Regions from separate parts of the Homo sapiens genome. Here region 2 is reported to be linked to region 1. The links are microRNA targets in miRTarBase. Many come from high-throughput screens and were not tested one by one. Region 1 holds a microRNA gene; the other region holds the end of a gene's coding sequence. Distances are between the middles of the regions.

What was found. The annotated mature microRNA hsa-miR-6892-3p reads UCCCUCUCCCACCCCUUGCAG and lies in region 1 at 1,376-1,396, opposite strand. An mRNA with a match to its seed (bases 2 to 7 or 8) in the 3' UTR can be bound and repressed. Matches are read on the target gene's strand: a 7mer-m8 pairs with bases 2 to 8, a 7mer-A1 pairs with bases 2 to 7 and ends in A, and an 8mer does both.
Region 2: miRTarBase lists NUP42 as a target of hsa-miR-6892-3p. The part of its 3' UTR that is shown has no 7-base or 8-base seed match.

The regions. Positions count from the first base shown.
Region 1 is chr7:143,379,102-143,384,175 of GRCh38, reverse strand. It overlaps MIR6892 (microRNA 6892), which reads right to left and starts at 1,490; the gene lies at 1,376-1,490. It overlaps ZYX (zyxin), which reads right to left and starts at 2,831. Exons shown (of 10, transcript NM_003461.5): 1 at 2,767-2,831; 2 at 2,397-2,619; 3 at 1,729-1,928; 4 at 1,491-1,583; 5 at 854-1,375. The coding sequence starts at 2,604. It overlaps FAM131B-AS2 (FAM131B antisense RNA 2), which reads left to right and starts at 3,151. Exons shown (of 2, transcript NR_161353.1): 1 at 3,151-3,910; 2 at 4,067-5,021. It also overlaps a transcript of FAM131B not described here. RefSeq lists silencers at 2,312-2,361, 2,392-3,421 and enhancers at 3,922-4,011, 3,135-4,035, 4,192-4,271.
Region 2 is chr7:23,200,077-23,205,150 of GRCh38, reverse strand. It overlaps NUP42 (nucleoporin 42), which reads right to left. Exons shown (of 7, transcript NM_007342.3): 7 at 4,145-4,983. The coding sequence ends at 4,406. Among named protein-coding and RNA genes, the nearest start is that of NUP42, 21 kb to the right of the region's middle.

The DNA.
Region 1 (5,074 bases):
CACTATCAGTGGACTCTGGATGCTTGGACTAGATGACCATCAGGGTCATCTTCGTCACCAGAAATTGGACGATCTTATTTCCTGAACTAGAAGGCAAGAACCATTTTGTAATTACAGCTTTTCTATTTTGAGCATTCCTGTACTAGATACAGAACCCAACACTCTCTAGGTATTAGCTCACCCAATCTTCACAACCACTGTATGGAGTAGAGAATGTTAAAGATTGAGAAACTGAGGCTCAGGGTTCACCTAACTTGCCCAGTCTAAGGACTTGGGAGAAGCTGAGCCAAGAATTCCATTCCAGGTCCATCTGACACCTGAAGGCTGAGCTTCTTGCAGAGATCTCTTCCCTCCCATGTCCTACCCTCCTGGGCACAGAGCACAGTGCCTGGCACGTGGTGGATGCTGGCTCAACCAGTGTTTACTGGGGCTGTCTCTTACCTCCAAGCCCTCAGGCAGAAAGAGTGCTCAGAGGAGCAGGGAGATTAACTCAAGACCCAAGAATGGGAAAAACCAAGGTGGAACTGGTGATCTCATCCCTCCCTTTAACTTTCTGGGGTAAAGGCACAAGGAAAGGTCCACCAGATCCTCCTAATTCAGAGCCCATGCTCTCTGCGCCGTCCCAGCCAGGCCCCACCCAGCCCCACACCCAGCCAGGCCTCTCCTCCAGAGGAGCATTTTCCTACCATTGTTCCACCAGGCTAACCCCAGAGGATGAAAATTCCTATCCCGCCACCCCGCAACCCCCGTGTCCACCCTGACTCTCCAATCACCTTATGCTTATGCTCTGGCTCCTGACCCAGCCCCGCCCCAGTGCCCTGGTACCAAGCCTTGTCCTATCACCATCCCTCACCTGGTTTTGGTTCTGAGCCGGTGGGGGCACGGGGTGCTGCTTCTCCTGCACTCGGGGCTTCTCCCTCTGCTGGGCATAGGTGAAGCTGGGAGGTTGAGGGGAGCCTGTGCCAGCAGAAAGAGCTTCGGGGTGCCCCAATTTTTGATTTGGTTGTGACCCAGATCCACCTGGGGCTCCAGGACTGAACTTGGAAGCCACAGGAGTAAACTTAGGAGTCACTGGAGAAAACTTAGGGGCTGGAGCCGGAGATGAGGCTGGGGGCCCTCGGGGCTGGGTGTTAGCCAAAGACACAGGCTGGGTCTGGGACTGGACATGGAGTTGGACCTGAGGCTTGGGCTGGGGCTGGGGCTGAACATGGAACTGTGTCTGGCTCTGAGCCGGAGCCGGAACCTGGGGCAGAGGCTGGGAGCTGGAAGGGGACTTCCAAGGAGGCAGGGGTGCTGTGCCCCCGGCTGCAGGCTTGGTACTGGACTTGGAACTGAATGGAGTGGCCACTGGTGGGGGCACATATCCAGATGACACCTGCAAGGGGTGGGAGAGGGAAGAGAGATGCAGTCAGGAGGACACCATCCTCCTTAGTTCTATGCCCAGTCTCTCTGGCCCTGAGCCCTGCTTTTCCTACTCTCCGGTCCCTTACCCGGGCTTTGAAAGGATCATTCTTGGTCATGTCATCCAGCAGTGAGGACAGAGAGTCGATCTCCAAATCAATACTGCTCACCTTCTCCCTGGGCTAGAGGGTCAGAGGTCAGAGCACCTATTCCATGCCTCTATCCCCCCACCCCCAAGGCAGAGGTGCAGGGGAGGTAAGAAGAAAGGGCCCTCTTCTCCTCTCCTTGGGGGTGTCCAGTGCAGCCGCCCCTCCCAGGCCTCCGTACCTGTGGTGGGGGCGGTATGGGGGCCTCAGGCCCTCCCTCCTCCTCCGGAGGAGGCGGCGGGGAAGGGAAGATCTCCTCCTCCAGAGGCGCAGGGGGAAATGATTCCTCGATCGGGGGAGGGGGCGGCGGGAAGGCACCTCCCAGAGCACCCTCTGCATCGTCGCCATCCCCAGCAAGGGGAGGTGGAGGCAGGGGAAAGTCTGGGGTAGGAAGGAGAAAGACGTCGGCCGGGGTCCCTCTACCCCTCACCCAAGCTCCCCTCAGTTAACCGCTCTAACCCCTAACCCAAGAACTCTCTCAGGGGTCCCAGAGCGTGTGGGGAAGCAAAGGAGGGGCGCAGGGCGCCCTGGGAGTACCAGGTCAGGAAAGGCCGGGCGCACTGCCGAGGAGTGGTGCAGCTCCCGTTACACTTCGGAAAACGGACCCGGAGGGGAAGATTCGTGCCCCACATTCCCGACTCCCACTCCCAGGCGGGGGACTTGGAACGGTCCCAGGAGCCCTGGCTCCCAGCCACGAGCTCCACGATGAGGTAAGAACATCTGCTCGGGACAGGGTGGCTGCGCCCAGCCCCCTCGGCAACAACCTTTCCAGACATCCCCAAATTCCCGAAACGACTGCCCCCCACCCCGGCTCCTGCCGGGGTACATTCCCCAAGCCCCGCCGCATACCTTCCGGGGGCGGCGGGGGAATCTCGCCCACCCGGCCCATCTGTGCGCGCTGGGCCCCGGGTGCCGGGGGAGGCTCGCTGTCCCCGGGCCGGAAGGGATTCACTTTGGGCTTTGGGGCCACCACAGGGCCGAACTTCTTCTGCGGGGCGTAAAAAGCCGGAGCCGAGACCGAAACGGAGATCGCGGGAGACGGGCGGGGGGCCGCCATGGCCGGGCCGGGCTGCTGGGGTGGGTCGCCGGGTTACGCAGCGCGGAGCCGGGCTCAGGAGCCCCAGGCGGTCCCAGCTCCCCTTGGTGACCCCCACTCGCCCCCTCCCGGCGCCCCGCGCCCCCTCCCCGTGGGGCCGCCCTGCCGCTCCCCGCGCCTCACCGCAGGCCGGAGCGTGCGCGCCGCGTCTCGGGTGGCCGCCTCGGCGCCGGGTCCGCAGACTCTGCGTCCCGGTCCGGAGCAGCCTCCAGCCGGGCGGGGAGGGACACACGGAAGGAGGAGGGAGGGAGAAGAGAGGGGGCGGGGAGAGAGCGGCGCCCAGACCATACAAGGAGCGGCCCGGAGAGGGGGCGGGGAGAGCGGGGAAGGGCGGACCAGGCAGGAAACTCCCCCAGGAAGGGGCCCTGATCCTGCCTCAGGCCGGAGGCTCCGCCGAGGTCCGCTCGCCCCCACCCCACTCACTGCCGCCCCCGCCGCCCCAGCCCGGCTCAGACCCCCACTCCCTGAGCACAGGCCTCTGATGTCATTTCCTGACCTGCCTCCCCCTCCCCGCCCGACCCGCGGGTGCCCGAGATCTGACTCACCGTCCCCCTCCGGGCTTAGCCGGCGGAGGTGGGGCGGGTGCCGCCGAGGTAGCCACGCAGCCCCTGTGCGCCTCCGGCCCGGCCCAGCGACCTCCTCTCGGGCCTGCCGTTACCCGGTCCCCTCCTGCCACCACCCGCTACCCGGCCACCCCGAGTCCGCCTGGGGTGGCCGAACGTATGGAGCTGGGCTCCAGGGTGCACGGGGATGGGGGGTGAGGAGCGGGGCGTTCTCCCTCCCAGCACCCCCCAGCTGACTCTGTGCCCGGAGGGGGTGTGTGAGCCGGAACCTCCAGCATTCTTGGGGATACGAACTTCCAACGCTGGGCAGCCTCTTAAGGCTTCTAGGAATTCGCATCCCCAGCGCCCCAGCCAGCAGATCGGTTGCGAGAGGGACCGTTCGGGTCCGCGGGGCCGGGAATGGAGGTGGGAGGGCGGGGCCGAGGCGGCGGCCGCCTGCGGACTGGAGACCCGGGAGGACGGACGCGGACGCGGGCTGCTCGTCTTTTACGGCCCTTCAACGCCCACCACGACCCACTCCTCTTGGAGACCCCGGGCGACGGTGGGGCTCTTGGGCATTCTGAGACTGCGCTTGGTGGAGACCCCGGGCGACGGTGGAGCTCTTGGGCATTCTGAGACTGCGCTTGGTGGAGCCCCCTACTGGCCAGACTGGATTTCTCAGCCTGCGACTCAGCCCCAGGCTACACGAAAGAAGCCAGACCTGGGTAATTCTTCTAGTTCTTTTTTTTTTTTTTTTTAATTGCACTGGGAAACTTCCCCAATCTCGGCCCCAGTTCTTTCTCCAAACTAAGGAGTCATGGCCTTTCGCCCGCTAGTCCAGTATGCACCCGTAGGCGCTTCATTTTCTCTCCTCTTGTCAGCTTTTACTGCCTCCTGAGGCCTTCGTCTTGTTCACACTGAGTGTCCAGTCCCTCCAAATCCGGCTACACTCTACTGGCAAGGAGCACCTGGGCCATGTTTTAGAGATCATCCGAGGACTAACCCCAAAAGTTTATGAAGAGAAAGCAGAGGCCGAGCTGAAGAGATGGACCCGGGTCACACCCAGGTAAAGGCAGGATCTAAACTGAAACTGGTGTCAGATCTGGTTGCCTTGCACCCCTGATATCAGGTGAAGCAACACTGGGCAGGATAGAGCAGAGTGAGGTCAGAGTGTGAAGATCCAGCCTGATGCCCAAACTGACGCCTCTTCATTCTCCCCTGCTCCATCTGTAAACGTCACGGTTAATCCATCTACTTTATTGCATTATATAGAGAAATAAATGAAATGTCATAGCTGTATGCGCTATATGACTCAGTATTATTATTCAAATTCCAGTTCTGCCCAGAATGAAAATTCTGACCTGGTTACACTAAGGCGTTTTCCCCCATATGTCCCTTTCTGGGTTGCCAGGCAGATCTCTCAGGGGCCTCGGTATGTGCAATGTCCTCTCTTTCCTTCAACCTTATTAAGTCTTTAATTATACCTAGGACGACATCTTAATCACTTTTGCAAACCCCACTGATCTTTTTCTCTGGCATCTCATTGTCTTTGTCACCACCAGTATTTCTCACAGCCACAGGCATGTGTGGCCATGTATGATGGGTAGTACGCAGTGCACACCTCTCTGACACGCTCAAGCCAGCCCTGGGCCTGTCTCTGAAGACATGTTAGAAATTTGATACTGGATTTCCTGTGCATGTTGGAGATTGTGTCTTGGGCTTCACAGACCAAAAGTCTCATCACAAATCCTTCAAAATATGGCCCCTTTGGGGAAAAAAAGATAGTTAAGAAGATGATTTCAAGATAACTCATAGGAATAAAAGCTATCTACCCTCTAAATGTCTCCTTAAGTAATGTGCGCGTGCAAAATAGAGTATGTGTAATTGTT
Region 2 (5,074 bases), 120 Mb from region 1:
TCAGCCTCCCAAGTAGCTGGGACTACAGGTTTGTGCCATCATGCCCAGCTCTGTCAAATTTTATGCTTCTCATATTAAGCTTTTTTTTTTTTTTAAGTCACATATAAAGCTCCCTGTCTGTGCCTTTCAGATCCCATTTCTTTTTTTCTTTCCCTAGGTAAACACTGTTCTGAATTTGGTGCTTGTATTAGTCCATTCTCACACTGCTAATAAAGACTGGGTGATTTATAAAGAAAAGAGGTTTAATTGACTCACAGTTTTGCATGGCTGGGGAGGCCTCAGAAAACTTAACAATCATGGCAGAAGGAGACGCAAACACATCCTTCTTCACATGGCGGCAGCAGAGAGAATAAGAGCCCAGGAAAGGGGGAAGCCCCTAAACCATCAGATCTCATGAGAACTCACTATCGTGGGAACAGAATGAGGGAAACCAGCTCCATGATTCAATTGTCTCCACGTGGTCCTGCCCTTGACACATGGGGATTATTACAATTCAAGATGAGATTTTGGGTGGGGACACAGCCAACTCATATCAGTGCTTATTATCCACATGCTATTATTCCTGTGTTTATGAATCCATACATAATACTACAGTATTGTTTTGCTCTTTTGTACTTTAAATGGTATATCATACATACTATTCTGTACCTTCCCCCTTTTTGGTGGTTGTTTATACAAGTAACTTGAGTCATTATACAGTTATATTCCATTATGCCAAAGTTTATCCATTATCCCGTGGATGGACTTCTGGTGCTTTCTGTTTTGCTATATAAACAATACTGTGTACATTTTTGTACATCTCCTTTACACATGAAATAGTTTCTGACATGTTCATGTGCATACAAATCATTTGGTGGGTCTTGTTAAAATACAGACTGATTCAGTAAGTTTGGGGTGGGACTGCAAATTGTACTCATATGAGGAAAAATGGGGGAAACATATAAAGGTAATGCTATTGTAGAAAATACAAAAAAAAAAGACAAAGTGTCCTCATAATCTAGTATGTGGTATAGCAGAGTGGTTTAAAGCATGGCCCCTTTAAATTCAGTGTTTGAATTACAACTCAACTACTTGGAAGTTGAGTGACTTTGGATAGGTCATTTAATGTCTCCAAATCTTGCTCTTCTCATTTTGAAAATGAGAATTGTTATAATAGCACCTAGGTTATATGGTTGTGATGAGGCAATTTGCTAATATACTAGATACAGAATGCTTAGGACATTGTCTGGCACATAGCAAAAACTCACTAAAATTTGAGCTATTATTGTTAAGTTTTAGCCTCCCCCCCATTAATATATTCTTTCTCTCCAAATTGGATCACACTGTACATGCTCTTTTTATAGCAAACTCTCGTCCACTGATTGCAGAATGAAAACATTTCCAAGTTATTCTCTATTAAGTCATTTAGAAAGGCTGTTTAGTATTCCAATGTATGTATCTACCACAATTAAATCATTGTTTGATGCTTCAAGTTGAATTATTTTACTCATGAATAATACTGCATAGCTAAATCATTTTATACCTTTTAGTTTTAATATCAGCTCACTTTCTCTCCCCTTTTAATCAGCTCTCAGCTGTTACCATTCTCCCCTTCTAATCTGTGATCAGATAATCAATCGAGTTAAATCAGTTTATTTGCTATACCTTATCTACAATTCTGTCACTTGCTCTAGACCTTAGGTGAAAAGGACAGCTATTACAGCAGCTGTGAAGGCAGGCTATTTTTGCCTATTTTAGGGTATGCCTCTTAGTTAGTCCAGCTCTGCTAGTCTCACTGGATATGAGATTAGGAGATACCATCCAGAAGATGCTGGCACATCCTTTTGTTGTGGGTGCCTTTTCCCTTCTACTACCTCCCTCTTGGGGTCTGAACACTCAACCTACCTTTATACCCAGCTGCTGCCACCTCATTGTTACCTGTTTCTGATTTTCTGAAGCCGCGATGCCCCTTAGCCTAGGTCTGGGAGTTACCAGTTTTCTTGACTTCTGACACCAGTATGTATGCATGGTGCTAGTTTCTACTTTGTGGGCCTCTCTGCTTTAGTTTCTCAAAATTTTTTAGTAGCCTGTAGCACTTATTTGTGCTTTTTAAAAAACTTCGGATCCTGTTAAATTCCCACATTTTTGTCTATATGGGAGCACAGAAAACAGACTTCAACAATTAAAACTCCCAAATCAGGTATTACTAAGTAGCCTAAATCCAGCTGGATAGTCCTGTTTCCCAAACTTGCCTGAAGGACCACAAGGAATACCTGTTGACATATTCCCAAGCCCATCCCAATGGGCAGCTCCTGTAATTTGGATATGTTATCTGGATATATTATTTAACACCCCAGGTGATTCCTATAATCAGGCACAGTTGGAAACAATGGGCTTTTAACTAGGATTTTCTGAGATCTTCCAGGACACTGGGAAGTTCAACTGAGACCTCAGGGAGCTTGTATGCAATTTAGAGGTAGTGTAGGGGTCATCCCGGGGGGGGGGGGGGCGGGGCAGGAAAATTCTAGGATTCAAGTATTAGTTCGAATACTGGAAAGTCTGTAGAGCTTGAGACCAAAGAAGGAATTTATGCTCTTTTTGTTTTAATCTTGCTCCTTCTAAAGGAACTTATGCTCTATTTACCATCTCTACACCAGCATGGTTTCAAATATATATCCCCTGGTTATAGTATAGATTCTGTACCAAACACTGGGGTTCCAGAACTGTCAGATGAGTCATGCAGCTCCTCAAAAAGTGTAATGGAGCCAGGCATGGTGGCTCATGCCTGTAATCCCAGAAATCTGGGAGGCTGAGGCAAGCGGATCATGAGGTCAGGAGATCAAGACCATCCTGGCTAACATGGTGAAACCCCGTCTCTACTAAAAATACAAAAAAATTAGCCGGGCGTGGTGGTGGGCGCCTGTGGTCCCAGCTACTCAGGAGGCTGAGGCAGGAGAATGGCGTGAACCCAGGAGGCGGAGCTTGCAGTGAGCCGAGATCGCGCCACTGCACTCCAGCCTGGGCGACAGAGTGAGACTCCGTCTCAACAACAATAACAACAACAACAACAAGAACAACAACAAAAGTGTAATGGAGAATGCAGGTCTTTTGAGGACTGAATCCTTTGCATACGTTAAAATCATTTGGAGGGCATATCTTTTATTATGTAAGGTTTTATATTCACTTAGAAAAATCAGCTGAATGCCAGAACCGTGTTAGTAACTGCTCTGGCAGTGCTAGCTATGCAATTTTTGAGGACTGAGAAAGCGCAGAAGTCTGATATACCTGCTTCAACTCGTGACAGGCATTTAGTTTCTTGGATCATCCATATGTAAAATATAAATCTTACTCCCTCAATCTGAGGACACAGGGAGATCCAAACATGCACAATAATTCTTTTTTTGTTGGGGGAGGGCAGGAAAGGGGATGGAGTATCGCTCTGTCACCCAGGCTGGAGGGCAGTGGTGTGATCTCAGCTCACTGCAACCTCTGCCTCCCGGGTTCAAGTGATTCTCCTGCCTCAGCCACCTGAGTAGCTGGGATTACAGGTGCCCGCCACCACACCCAGCTTATTTTTTGTATTTTTAGTAGAGATAGGGTTTCACCATGTTGGCCAGGCTGGTCTCGAACTCTCCTGACCTCAAGTGATCTGCCCGCTTCAGCCTCCCAAAGTGCTGGGATTACAGGTGTGAGCTACTGTACCTGGCCATGCCTGAGAAGATCTAGAAACAGAAACTGGTGAATCCTGACCCCACTACACACATTATTTATTCACATGAGATCACAATTTGTTTCTCTTACAACTCATCCATTTGACAGACTAATGTGATGAATAAATAGAATTCTATAAAAGTGAGGCCAAAATAAAAAGCAGCCTAAGATTGTTGAAGAAAACTCAAATGGTGGTCCACGAGACCGCCAAAGTTGAGAGGGAACCAAACTTATCGGGGGGGAAATGCCCCTATGGTTCTAAAACTAAAAGCTTGTCACTCTTTACAAACTGATTTATCTCTTTGAGAGAATCCTGAACATGAAGTCATGCTACTAATGTTTACTCTAAAAGTAGGTTAAATATTTGAGCATGTTCCCCCTAATAATTACAGAAATTATCTCCTTCCTAAAAAAAAAAGTTTAAAACTTTAAATTGTGAGACAGTAAAGTGGTATGGCATGAGAAAAGTACTTTATTCGTGCATAATTTTTCAGTTCCATTCAAAATTACAGTACAAAAAAATTCCCTTGCTTGCAGAGTTTTTGTTACTTTTTACTTAAATATTTAGAGTTAAGAAAAAAATCAAATTTAAAATCACTATTGATGGAAGCTTATATTCCTTATGAATATATACATGTATGCATATATACATCTCTGTATGAATCACTCAAAGCAATTTTAAACATCATTCTTTTTTGTATTTAAAATTGCCCTTTTAAACATTTAGAAGTTCCAGAGGTGGAGGCTTTAATGGAATTTTTCCCAGAGTAAATTTCTTGGATTGAAATTGTTCCAGTTCTTCTACTGTTAGTTTATCTCTGGGTGTGAATAACACATTATCTGTTGCAATGATGCTGCTTGAGGCTGACAGAGAAGTGGATATGCTGCTATTTCCAAAAGTGTCACTGGATGGCTTAGAAAAAGCAGTGTGAGAATGTGAGCCCGGACTACCAAAACCAGCCACAGAACTGCCACCTCCAAAGGCTGGGGCCACTGGAGCTCTGACAGGACCTGTTGCCAAGGAAGCTGGAAGTCCTGAAAATCCAGGTGATCCAAAACTGGAAGCTGCAGGGCTTTTGAATGAAAATGATGCAGCCGATGTGACTTCAGGCTTCCCAAATCCAAAAGCTGGAGCAGAAGTAGAGATACCTGAACTGGTAGAGGCTGCAGCTCCAAATGCTGGGGAACTCCCAAAACCAGCAGGGCTTCCAGAAGAGGCAGCAGCAAATCCAGAGTTTGTTTTAAAACTAAAGTTCTGAGCATTATCACTGCTGCTGTTATTGACTGGAAAGCCTACAAACAACAACAACAACAAAAAAAACAACAAAAATCTATTACGGTCAGAAAAATGTCACAATTATTTCCTCCCCCTATCTTTTTTTCT